2 separate regions of the Homo sapiens genome follow, and region 1 is linked to region 2. The links come from fine-mapping of genetic effects on gene expression. A gene starts in region 2. The other region holds a variant in brackets. All regions are shown on one strand. Distances are from middle to middle.

Evidence for each region.
Region 1: its variant is fine-mapped to the expression of CAP2 in nasal epithelium (TOPMed, PIP above 0.99).

Annotation. Positions count from the first base shown.
Region 1 is chr6:17,519,371-17,524,751 of GRCh38, reverse strand. The region is part of intron 7 of CAP2 (cyclase associated actin cytoskeleton regulatory protein 2); the gene reads right to left. Among named protein-coding and RNA genes, the nearest start is that of FAM8A1, 78 kb to the left of the region's middle. The variant G/A (reference allele first, on the strand shown) is at 2,132.
Region 2 is chr6:17,391,571-17,396,951 of GRCh38, reverse strand. CAP2 (cyclase associated actin cytoskeleton regulatory protein 2) reads right to left here and starts at 3,357. Exons shown (of 13, transcript NM_006366.3): 1 at 3,206-3,357.

The DNA of each region.
Region 1 (5,381 bases), 130 kb before region 2:
CTCCAGAAGACATGCCCACCAGGGCCATGTCAGTTGACCACTGCCATGGCAACACCTGGAAGTTACTAACTACCCCTTTCCATGGCAATGACCTGGAAGTTATCACCTCTTTTCTAGAACTTTCTGAATAACTTCCCCCTTAATTTGCCTATAATTAAAAGTGAATATAAATATAATGGCAGAATGGTCCCTGAGCTGCTACTCTGGGCACAGTTCCTATGGTACCCCTGCTGCTGCTGCACATTGCTGCTGCCATAGAAGCTGCTGTCTAACACCGCTGGCTCACCCTTGAATTCTCGCCTGGGCAAAGCCAAGAACCCTCCTGGCTAAGCCCCACTTTTGGGGTTCACCTTCCCTGCATCATTATCAACTGACACTAAAACTCAAAGGTATTTATGAGATAATAAAAACAGTTCTAAATAGAACACATTTACTTAGAGCTTCACAGTATAGCTCTTAATGACTGTGTGTGAAATTGGAGATATTTGACTATTTTTCACCTATTCTATTGAAGATATAGCACAGATTAAAATGAAAATTCACAAATACCCCAAATTTCAAAAGGCAGAAATTGAAGCCATAAGAAATAATCCATCAAATTAGACAACTGGTCCAGAAATAATCAAGAGATCATTACAGGAAAACTTCTTACTCCTTTTTTTTTTTTTTTTTTTTTTGAGACAGAGTCTTTCTCTGTCACCAGGCTGGAGTGCAGTGGCGCGATCTCAGCTCACTGCAACCTCTGCCTCCTGGGTTCAAGCCATTCTCTCCTGCCTCAGCCTCCTGAGTAGCTGGGACTACAGGCATGCGTCACCACGCCCAGCTAATTTTTGTATTTTTAGTAGAGACGGGGTTTCATCATGTTGGCCAGGATGGTCTTGATCTCTTGACCTTGTGATCCAACCGCCTCAACCTCCCAAAGTACTTTGATTACAAAAACATTTTACTCCTTAATTCTGTAAAACTGCATCTGCCTCCAGTCCTCCAGAAACTGCTCTTGGAAGGTTACTAATAACATGGTAAACATGGCTGATGACAGCCTTTGTCCAATCCTTATTCACCACAGCTTACTACAGTTGGTATCACTGGCCAGCCTGTTTTCCCTATAGCTTTGAGACTCTCCATTCTTCTAGTTCTCCTATCTCTTGTCTCCTTGATTAGTTTACCCCATTCTTGAAATAATAGTGTTTTCCAAGGTTTTATCCTTGATCTCACTCTCTCTTTTTTAACCATCTTATTTATTTGCCGGTCTTTTCTAGGTAGATGACTCCCAACACGTACATCGGGGTCTCCCCCTTCAGTGAATTCCAGATCTAAATCTCACCTCCTGACTCCACGTGTTTGGATGTCTCTCCTATACCTCCCGCACCTCAAACACAATGCAGTGAAACCCCAGGTGAAGATTTTTCTTCCTTCTCTACCAGCTCCTCCTTGCGATTTCCCTATTTTTATATTACCACGATTCTCTCCCAGACTTCCAGATTGGAAATTTTGTGTTAGATTTTATGTCCCTTGTCCTCCAACTCAGTGGCTACTCCATCTCTTTGCATTGCCATTGTCACACTCTAGGTCACATACTAACTACCTCACCCTCTAGCCATCCACTAAAGTCTCCCAACACGTATCAGGGCCTCTAATCTCTTCCCCTCTCCATCTATCTTATGCAATTCCTAAGTCATTATTCACAGTGTGTTGCTTTCTGCTTAAGAACCCATGCAGGCTGGGTACGGTGGCTCACACCTGTAATCCCAGCACTTTGGGAGGCCAAGGCGAGTGGATCACCTGAGGTATCAGCCAGGCATGGTGGCATATGGCTGTAGTACCGGCTACTCTGGAGGCTGAGGCAGGAGAATCACCTGAACCCAGAATGCGGAGGTTGCAATGAGCCGAGATCGTGCCACTGCACTCCAGCCTGGCGACAGAGTGAGACTCTGTCTCAAAAACAAAAAACAAACAACAAAACCTATGGCAAAGGAAACAACTTCAAACACTACATAGCCCCACCTTCTTAGCATAATGCATAAGGATTTCACCATCTGGCCCCAACCTGCCTTTCTGGCCTCACCTTTTGCCACATTCAGCTCTGCAAAACCACCAGCCTTTCTCTCAAAGTACATTGTTCATGTCTTAC[G/A]TACATATGCTGAATTCTCTGCCCCAAAACTGCCCTTCCCTTTACTGTTTGCCTAGGGAACTCCTGCTCACCGTCAAGATCCAAATCAAGTGTCAGCCCTTTTGTGGCTCTTCGTGCCCACCCAGGAAGGAGTCTAATTCACAAGGCTTATTTTCCAACCTAGCTTTGTATTGCTGTTATTTATTTATGCATCATAATAAAAACCCTGCTGCTTCACGGAAGAACTGTAGTATAAATATAATGCCTGGTGTGTGCTTGGTACATGGTAAGTAGCCAATAAGTAGTTACCAAGGAAGTGAATTACTAAATAAATGAACGTGTAAAAGTGAATGATTTCCCTATAACAACTCCTTTGGCCCAACTTAAATACAGTAGAGCAGTGCTTTTCGAACTTCACTATGCATATAAATTACCTGGGAATCCTGTTGAAAAGTAGGTTGTGATTTGGGAGGGCTGAGGTGGGGCCTGAGAGCCTGAGATTTCTTTTTTTTTCTTTCCTTTTTGTCTTTTTTGAGACAGAGTCTTGCTCTGTCGCCCAGGCTAGAGTCCCGTGGTGCAATGCAGGCTGACTGCAACCTCCACCTCCCAGGTTCAAGCGATTCTCCTGCCTCAGCCTCCTGAGTAGCTGGGATTACAGGTCTGCACCACCACGCCCAGCTAATTTTTGTATTTTTAGTAGAGACAGGTTTTCACCATGTTGGCAACACTGGTCTCGAACTCCTGACCTTAGGTGATCTACCCGCCTCAGCCTCCCAAAGTGCTGGGATTACAGGCTTGAGGTACCGCGCCCAATCAAGGGGCCTGAGCTTTCTAACAAGTGCCCAGGTTGCTGTTGGCCCCAGAACCATGCTGCACTACAGGATGGGCCGTATCTTCCACGTGGTCCTGGTCTATGCAAGCGTCATGCCTTGTGTGGATTCCCTAGCACACTGCTCCCCCTGTTCTATCATGGTGCATTGCTCATCTTCTTCAGCTAGAATGCGCGTTTCCGTGGACAGGAATCGTGTCCACAATGCCATCTACCCATCTTTGTATTCTTAGCCCCTTGCCCAGAACTCAGTGCATAGTAGATGCTTAAGCCATATTGGTTTAATTATGTGGTCTCTGTCAGGCTGAACTCACAGCCACTTCCAACCTAACTTTACTATCTACCTGTGCATTTGAGGCTTCTTTGTTAGTTGATGACACTTCTTTTTTTTTTCTGAGACGGAGTCTCGCTCTGTGGCCCAGGCTGGAGTGCAGTGGTGCCATCTTGGCTCACTGCAAGCTCCGCCTCCCAGGTTCATGCCATTCTCCTGCCTCAGCCTCCCGGTAGCTGGGACTACAGGCACCCGCCACCTTGTGCGGCTAATTTTTTTTTTTGTATTTTTAGTAGAGACAGGGTTTTACCGTGTTAGCCAGGATGGTCTCGATCTCCTGACCTCATGATCTGCCCGCCTCGGCCTCTCAAAATGCCGGGATTACAGGCATGAGCCACTGCGCCCAGCCAGTTGATGACACTTCTAACCCCTGTTGAGCAATGTGGAACCCTTCCATAAGAGAATAAGAGTAACTGGCCACCCAGAGCCCCAGAAGGGACCTAGAAGCCCAAACTGAACTAAGTAGAACGACGCAGCTGTGGTCAGGTACACTGGCCAGGGCCACTCCGTGGGAAGAGCCATAGAGAACAGTGAGCTTTGTCATCAGACAACCAACACATCATCTGAGGCGCTGCCCATTCACTTTGATTAATACCCCTAAGGTGTGGGTTTGGTACAAGTTCTAAATGAAAATTTGGATATAAAAGCTTAAGAACAGTTTTCTCTTGTAAATAGCAAGAGGAAGGTAAAGAGGCCTGAAGACTTGAAAACGTACAAGGCATACATATTCATAGTTAATGACATGCCACAGAGTCTACATTATTTATAATAAGTCGGGATACCCTCTGGCTGAGTTTTAATTTGATCAAAAGTAAGCTATTAAACTTTCACTTTGTTAACAGACATTTGGCCTTTACACCAAGAAACAGAAAGAAAAGAAATATCTACCTGGAGGAAAAGAAGTGATCCTAAAGCATTTTGCTTTGGGAAAAATGAAACGCCACCTTGTCTATAATTGTAACCACCACCAACGACTTGCATTTTCCTGGAGGTTCAGGAGAGGCTAGGATGGATGATAGTGTATAGGATGGATTTTTAAAACCCGTATTATTAAGAATTACATTGGCTGGGTGCAGCTTATCATCCTACCATGCTTATCATCCTAGCACTTAGGGAGGCCAAGGCAGGCGGATCACTTGAGCCCAGGAGTTTGAGACCAGCCTGGGCAACGTGGTGAAATCACGTCTCTACAAAAAAAATATAAAAATTAGCCAGGCATGTTGGTGCACGCCTGTAGCCTCAGCTACTTAGGAGGCTGAGGCAGGAGGACTGCTTGAGTTCAGGAGGTCAAGGCTGCAGTGAGCTGCAATCGTGCCACTGTACTCCAGCCTGGGCATCAGAGCGAAACTCTGTATCAAAAAAACAAAACAAAACAAAAAACAGTAACAACAAAAAAAATAGAACTACATCACTATTACATAAGACTGTATATACATTCATCCATGTGCAGTTTTATTCTACTCTACAAATAATTATATCTTATTTGATCCCAAAGCTAAAGTAATTCAGAAATATAGGAAAGGACAGAAATATGTCAACAAGTTTAACAACCGAAAGTTAATAAAATAATCACATTTCTCCTAATCATAGAATTCTTTACATGACCTTTATCTGAGCAGAATTTTCTGAACAGATAATAGTCTGTTTTTAGAACAGGATAATAGTCTGCATTTATAGATTCACAGAAATGAAGAGTTTTGTAGGAAAAAAGTCAATTATTTCAATAATTATAAGGGTAAAGACTAGGCCTTAGTCTTTCGACTTTAGTTATCTGATTTGAAGGAAATGCCAAGGAATATTACAGCTCTGACCAACTGCGAGGGATCCTAAGTAACAGTGCTGCTAATGGGTTTGTGCCAAAAGATCAATTTGTTCAACGAAGTGCATTTGAAACTTAGCACTGAGGAAATGACACAAACTCATATGAAAAAGAGGTCCAGTCCCAAGGATGAAACTAACTGAAAACAGCAAGTTAGTTTCTGGTGTGGGGTCTTTCTAGTTGACAGCTGTCTTAATAAGTTGGAAAAAAGCTCATAGAAATGACAAGATTCCATTTACCATGGTAAATGTAAGAAGACATTCCAGACAGATTATTCCACAGCTGCCTCCTC
Region 2 (5,381 bases):
CAAAATTCAGGGTTGGGAGGGACATGAGAGCAGGCACAGAGGAAAAACACAAAGATGCAACTGGATACTAACAATCTAGTACTTTTTCCCCTAGTTTTCTGTTTATTTTCTTTAACAATTTTATTGAGATGTAATTCACATACCACACAATTCACCCATTAAAGGTGTACAACTCAATGGTTTTTAGTATATTCACAGATACGTGCGACTATCACTATAGTCGATTAGAGGATATTTTCATGTTTCACCTCAAAAAGAAACCCTGTGACCTTTATCTATCACTTCCCTACTCAACCCACCTCCAGCCCCTTCAGCCCTAAGCAACAAAAAATCTACTTTCTAGCTGTATACATTTCCTTGGTCTGGACATTTTCAAATGAATAGATCATACAGTACGTGATATTTTGACTGGCTTCTTTCACTTAGCATAATGTTTTCAAGATTCATCGATGTTGTAGCATGTATCAGTACTCCACTCTTTTTTATGGCCAAATAATATCTCGCTGTATGGATATACCACCTTTTATTTATCCACTCATCAACTGATAGTCATTTGGTTTGTTTCCACCTCTTGGTTATTATAAATGGTGTTGCTGTCAACATCTGTGTACAGGTTTTTTTGTGAGCATATGTTTTAATTTCTCTTGGACATATATTTACAATGGAATTGCTAGGTCATATGGTAACTTTATGTTTAATTTGAAGAACTGCCAAACTTTTCCAAAGTGAGGGCACCATCTTATATTCCCATCGGTGGTGTACAAAGGTTCCAATTCCTCCACATCCTCACCAGTATTTGTTATTATCTGACTTTTTGATTATAGCCATGCTAGTGAGTATAAAGTGGTATCCCATCGTGGTTTTGATTTGCATTTCTCTGATGAATAATGATGTTGAGTATCTTTTCATGGGTTTATTGGCCATTTGTATATCTTCTTTGGAGATAGCTATTCAGATCCTTTGCCCATTTTTAAATTGGATTATTTTTCTTTTTATTATTGAGTTGTAAGAACTCTTTATATGTTGTGGATACAAGACCCTTATCAGATACATGATTCCTAAATATTTCCTCCCATTCTATGAGCTATCTTTTCACAACTATCTAGTTCTTAAGCCCTAGTTTATAAACCTAGTGATGGGTTCACAGGTGTTCAGTTGAACATAATGTTCATAACTCACCTAGACTTAGCGTATTATTTTTACATATAAAATGTTACATAATAAATTAAAAACAAAACAAAACCTCATGAATAAAGATGTTAGGAAATATTCAAAACAAAACAAAACTCCATAATGCTCAAAATAAGTTAATGCTTTTCTGGAGGGTATTTAACTTAACTGCCAAGGTATAACAGGCACTCAAGAGAATGTGGCCCATTAATCCTTTCAATAGGCTCCTCTCCAGATTCTAGCACAGAATCAATCAGTGGGAGTAGCAAACTACTACTAGAAGGACAAATCCATTCCCTTCTCTCTTACTTTTGTGTTTTCTGCTCCTCCCTCAAGCTAAGAATAGTTTTTACATTTTTTAATGCCTGGAAAAAAACAGAAGAATATTTTGTTACTGGTGAAAAGTTCAAGGTTCAATGTCTGTAAATAAAGTAAAACACAAACATACCATTCCTTTAGGTATTGTCTTTAGCTGCTTTCAAACTATAACTGTGGAACTGAGTAGTTGCTAAGGAGACCATATGGCCTGCAAAACCTACATGTTTACTATCTAGCTCTTAACTCAAAGGTTTACCAAACCCTACCCTGTATCAACAAATTAAATTACTTCTCACATTAACGATGGGGAACAAAAACTTACTTCCTACTAGCAAAGACCACCTTGATAATCACCTTCCTGATTTCTCATAGTCAACTTCTTTTTCTCTTTATCCTTAAGAAGTATTTATATGACACTTTGATTGTAATGTTATTAAGAATTTTTTAAATTTCGGGATTCATGGAGAAGTCGCCTTTCCTTGCAAAATATGCAGTATATTCAAGAAGTCATGCTCCATCTACACTTAAGGTACTGAATTAACTATTTCACACACTTTTATTGTCTATCCATTACATGCTGTGAGCCAAATACTGTTTGGTGCCGTAGGAACTACCAAACAACCCATCCTTGCTTTCAAGAGGCTTGCAGTCTAATTAGACTCTAGTAACTATAAATCCAATTCTCTAAAGTTCACTCTACCGTTGTAATTTTACACTAAGTGGGCTTAGATAGTTTACCAAGAATTCTAAGGAACATAGCTTCAATGAAATCTACAGAAGCAGTAAGGAAATAGGAGTACTCAGTAAACTACAGTGCTCAAGTCCCAGAAGCTTCTGCATTTCCATAACTATAAAACCAAAGGTCCTAGATGTTTTTACCAAGTGTTCATCTCCACTCTGGCTGTTTGGACCTAGTCCCGGTTCAACTTCCTAAATGCAGTCACCCATACATACTCATTTTTAAGAATGCATCCATTCAAATATTGCTACAACTTGCAGCGAACACCACTCTGATGAGAATAAAGAAAAGGCCATCTGCAGGTTGATTTTTGGCCCTAAAAGTGATGATACGGCGGCTACTTCCACGAACACCCCTCTACCCAAAGCAGTCAGAGAGCCAGCGGCGGGTGCCGTTTTTCCGAGCCGTTCCCCCAGTCTCAGTTGCCTCTGCATTTTTTAGAAGTGACTCATCGCCTCAAGTCAGGTTCTGCAGAGGGGAAGCCAGGTCTGTTTCTTTCCAGCACTTTCTGATCGAGGTGGCTCTGGTCAGAGCCGGCGCAATGACTCCCACCCCCACCCCCCTGGAAGACTCACAGCCCGGTGGACGAGACCCCCCAAAGTTAGAGCGGCCGGGCGGGCGGCGGCGCTGGGGTGGGGAGGCCGCGGCCGCCCGCCAACCCCGGGCAGCTCCTGCCCGCACCCCGCCTTCCGAGCGGCCAGGACGCCGGAGCTGGGGAGGCGGGGGCAGGGCGCGCCGCTCCGCTGACCCAGATGGGAGTCCGCCCGCGCCCGCGCCCCGCGCCCGGGTCGCCGCGCCCCGGCCCCCGCGCCCGCGCCGCCTTTATTCCCCTCGCGCTGCTGCCACAGCCGCAGCGTCCCGGCCGCTTCCCTACCCCACCCATCGGGCTCAACTTGCCAGCGCCCGCCGCCAGGCGCCCCCCGCACCTGCACCCCGACCCCTCCCCGCCTCGCCGGGCCCCGACCGCTGCAGGATTACCTGCTTCGCTGCCCTGGGGTCCCGTCCTCGGCAATGCAAATCCGTGGTCGGCCACTCGTACCCTCCTCCCGCGGCCCTCCCCTTCTCCTCCCCTCTCCCTCCTCCCAGCTGAATAGGAGCCGGTGTCAGTCACGCTGCTCCAGGGGAGAGTCGCCGGCAGCTTCCGGAGCTCCAAATACAGACGAGCTGAGGGGGGAGAGGGAGAGCAAAGCCACGCGGGTGGGGAGTGGAAATAAAGGGGAGCAGAGAGGAGAAGGGGGTGGAGGAAAGGAGGGGCAGATGGGCCGTGGGAGAAAAGACAGGGAGATGGGGAAGGCAGAGCCAGGGAACGCCAGCCTGCCTGCCAAGCGCCAGGCTATGCGAGAAATGGATTCAGTGCATGAGGCAGTATTGCAAAGAAGTCTGGAAAGATCCGGAGGCTCCTGGCTGAAGGAGGCACAGATAGGTTGGATACCCGAAGATCTGTGCAGAGAAATGGGTAATGGATCCTTAGGAATCAAGAGACGGCATGTGTGTCCCCAGACCCAATATGAGGATAAAGGCTCTGGGAGGAGAAGGAGCTAGACAGCTAATGCTTTAGCGAGACATCAAGACTGAGTGCACTCATAGTGCGTGTGATGACATTTTTAAAAAGTATTTTATAAACAGCAACTTTTTAAATGTCCTGATTATTTAAAAATTAAAGTAACCAAACCCACTTGGCTTCTTAAGATGTGCAGCATATTTGTGGCCACTTCCCCTTTATATATTGATTATAATTGCAAAATTGGAGGCTTTTCTCTTAACGTCATTAGAAGGAAAGCATTGATTTTCAATTTTCATCAAAGTTTATTTCAGTCTAAAAAAGTGACTTGAAGCTCTTTATTGAATGAATGCCAGGAAAATAATTGCAGAAAAGAGAAAAAAAGAGGGGAAATGTAACTGATATCTTCTGAAAGTAAAATCTCCAAACAATAAATATGAGATGAATTTCTTAAAGGCCAATATTCTCTGTCGATGTTAAAATTGCACATAAGTTGGTTCTGTACATTATAAGGCTTATTCTGACCCCATAGGTCAGCACTTATACAAAGGTCATTCCAATTACACATTGCTCTCTGCTGACAGTAATGAGGTGCAGTGAGTCTTTGCTTCCCTTTGTCTGGAAAGAAGGGAAACAAAATGACATAAACATTGATCAATGAGTGCGTACATTGCATAAAGCCAGAGCCAGCACCCTCCCTATCCTGTGGATACCTTGCATATGGCGGGCATTCAATATGTTTGTATTAAATAATGAATGAATGGATGGATGGATGAAGTATGTATGCATTTAGAACATTTGTGTTCCAGAAATGCAGAAAAAATATATATCCATAAGAATCAATGTGTGCAGGATCACAGGGAAGTTCCAAGCATCCATTCATATGACTTTTTTTTAGCACTAACTTCAACAAACATTAGCACAGTATTTCCTTAGCTACATCTGTTTTTTATTGGAGTATAAAGTATTATGGAGTCTAAGAGTGGATGAGCCACAAATCCTGTCTTTAGGTTGATAATATAGTAGGAAGATGTGAAGAGTATAAAAATAACCACAGTTCTAGGAATGTCGTAAAAAACATTCTAAAAGAAGTATGAACAAATTTCCATGGATGTTCAGAAGAAAGGAAGGTTGCTTCTAGACTGGGGATTAGAGAACACTTTCTGATGGACATGAAAGTTGAGTCTTCATGCGGAAATGAGACATTAAGAGTGGATTGTGGAGGAAAAACCCTCAAGATGATGGGCAGGGACAAAAGTGGAGAGGTAATAAAGGATGGCATGTATGAAGGACAGTCTGTGAGTTTAGCTGGATTGGAGGGCTGTGGAAGCCAGGTATGGAAGGAAGGTTAGGCCCTGGCTGGTAGAGGCCTTCAATCTCAGCCTAAAATGTTTGAAGCCTAAGTAGTAGGCACTGGGGGACTATTGACCATTTTTGAGCATAATCATGATAGCAATGGTTAGTTTGGTGGTGGTATATAGGACTGGAAAGAGATAGGAGGCAGGGAAATCCACTAAGAAATAACTAGCTAGTCTGGAGGGGAAAGTAACGAGCCTCAACTTGAAGCCTGAACTCTTCCCTTAACTAGCCCTGTCATAGCATCTGTCTGCTATATGATGTCTCCCCAAAAGGGCTAGCCCCCAGTGAACACTT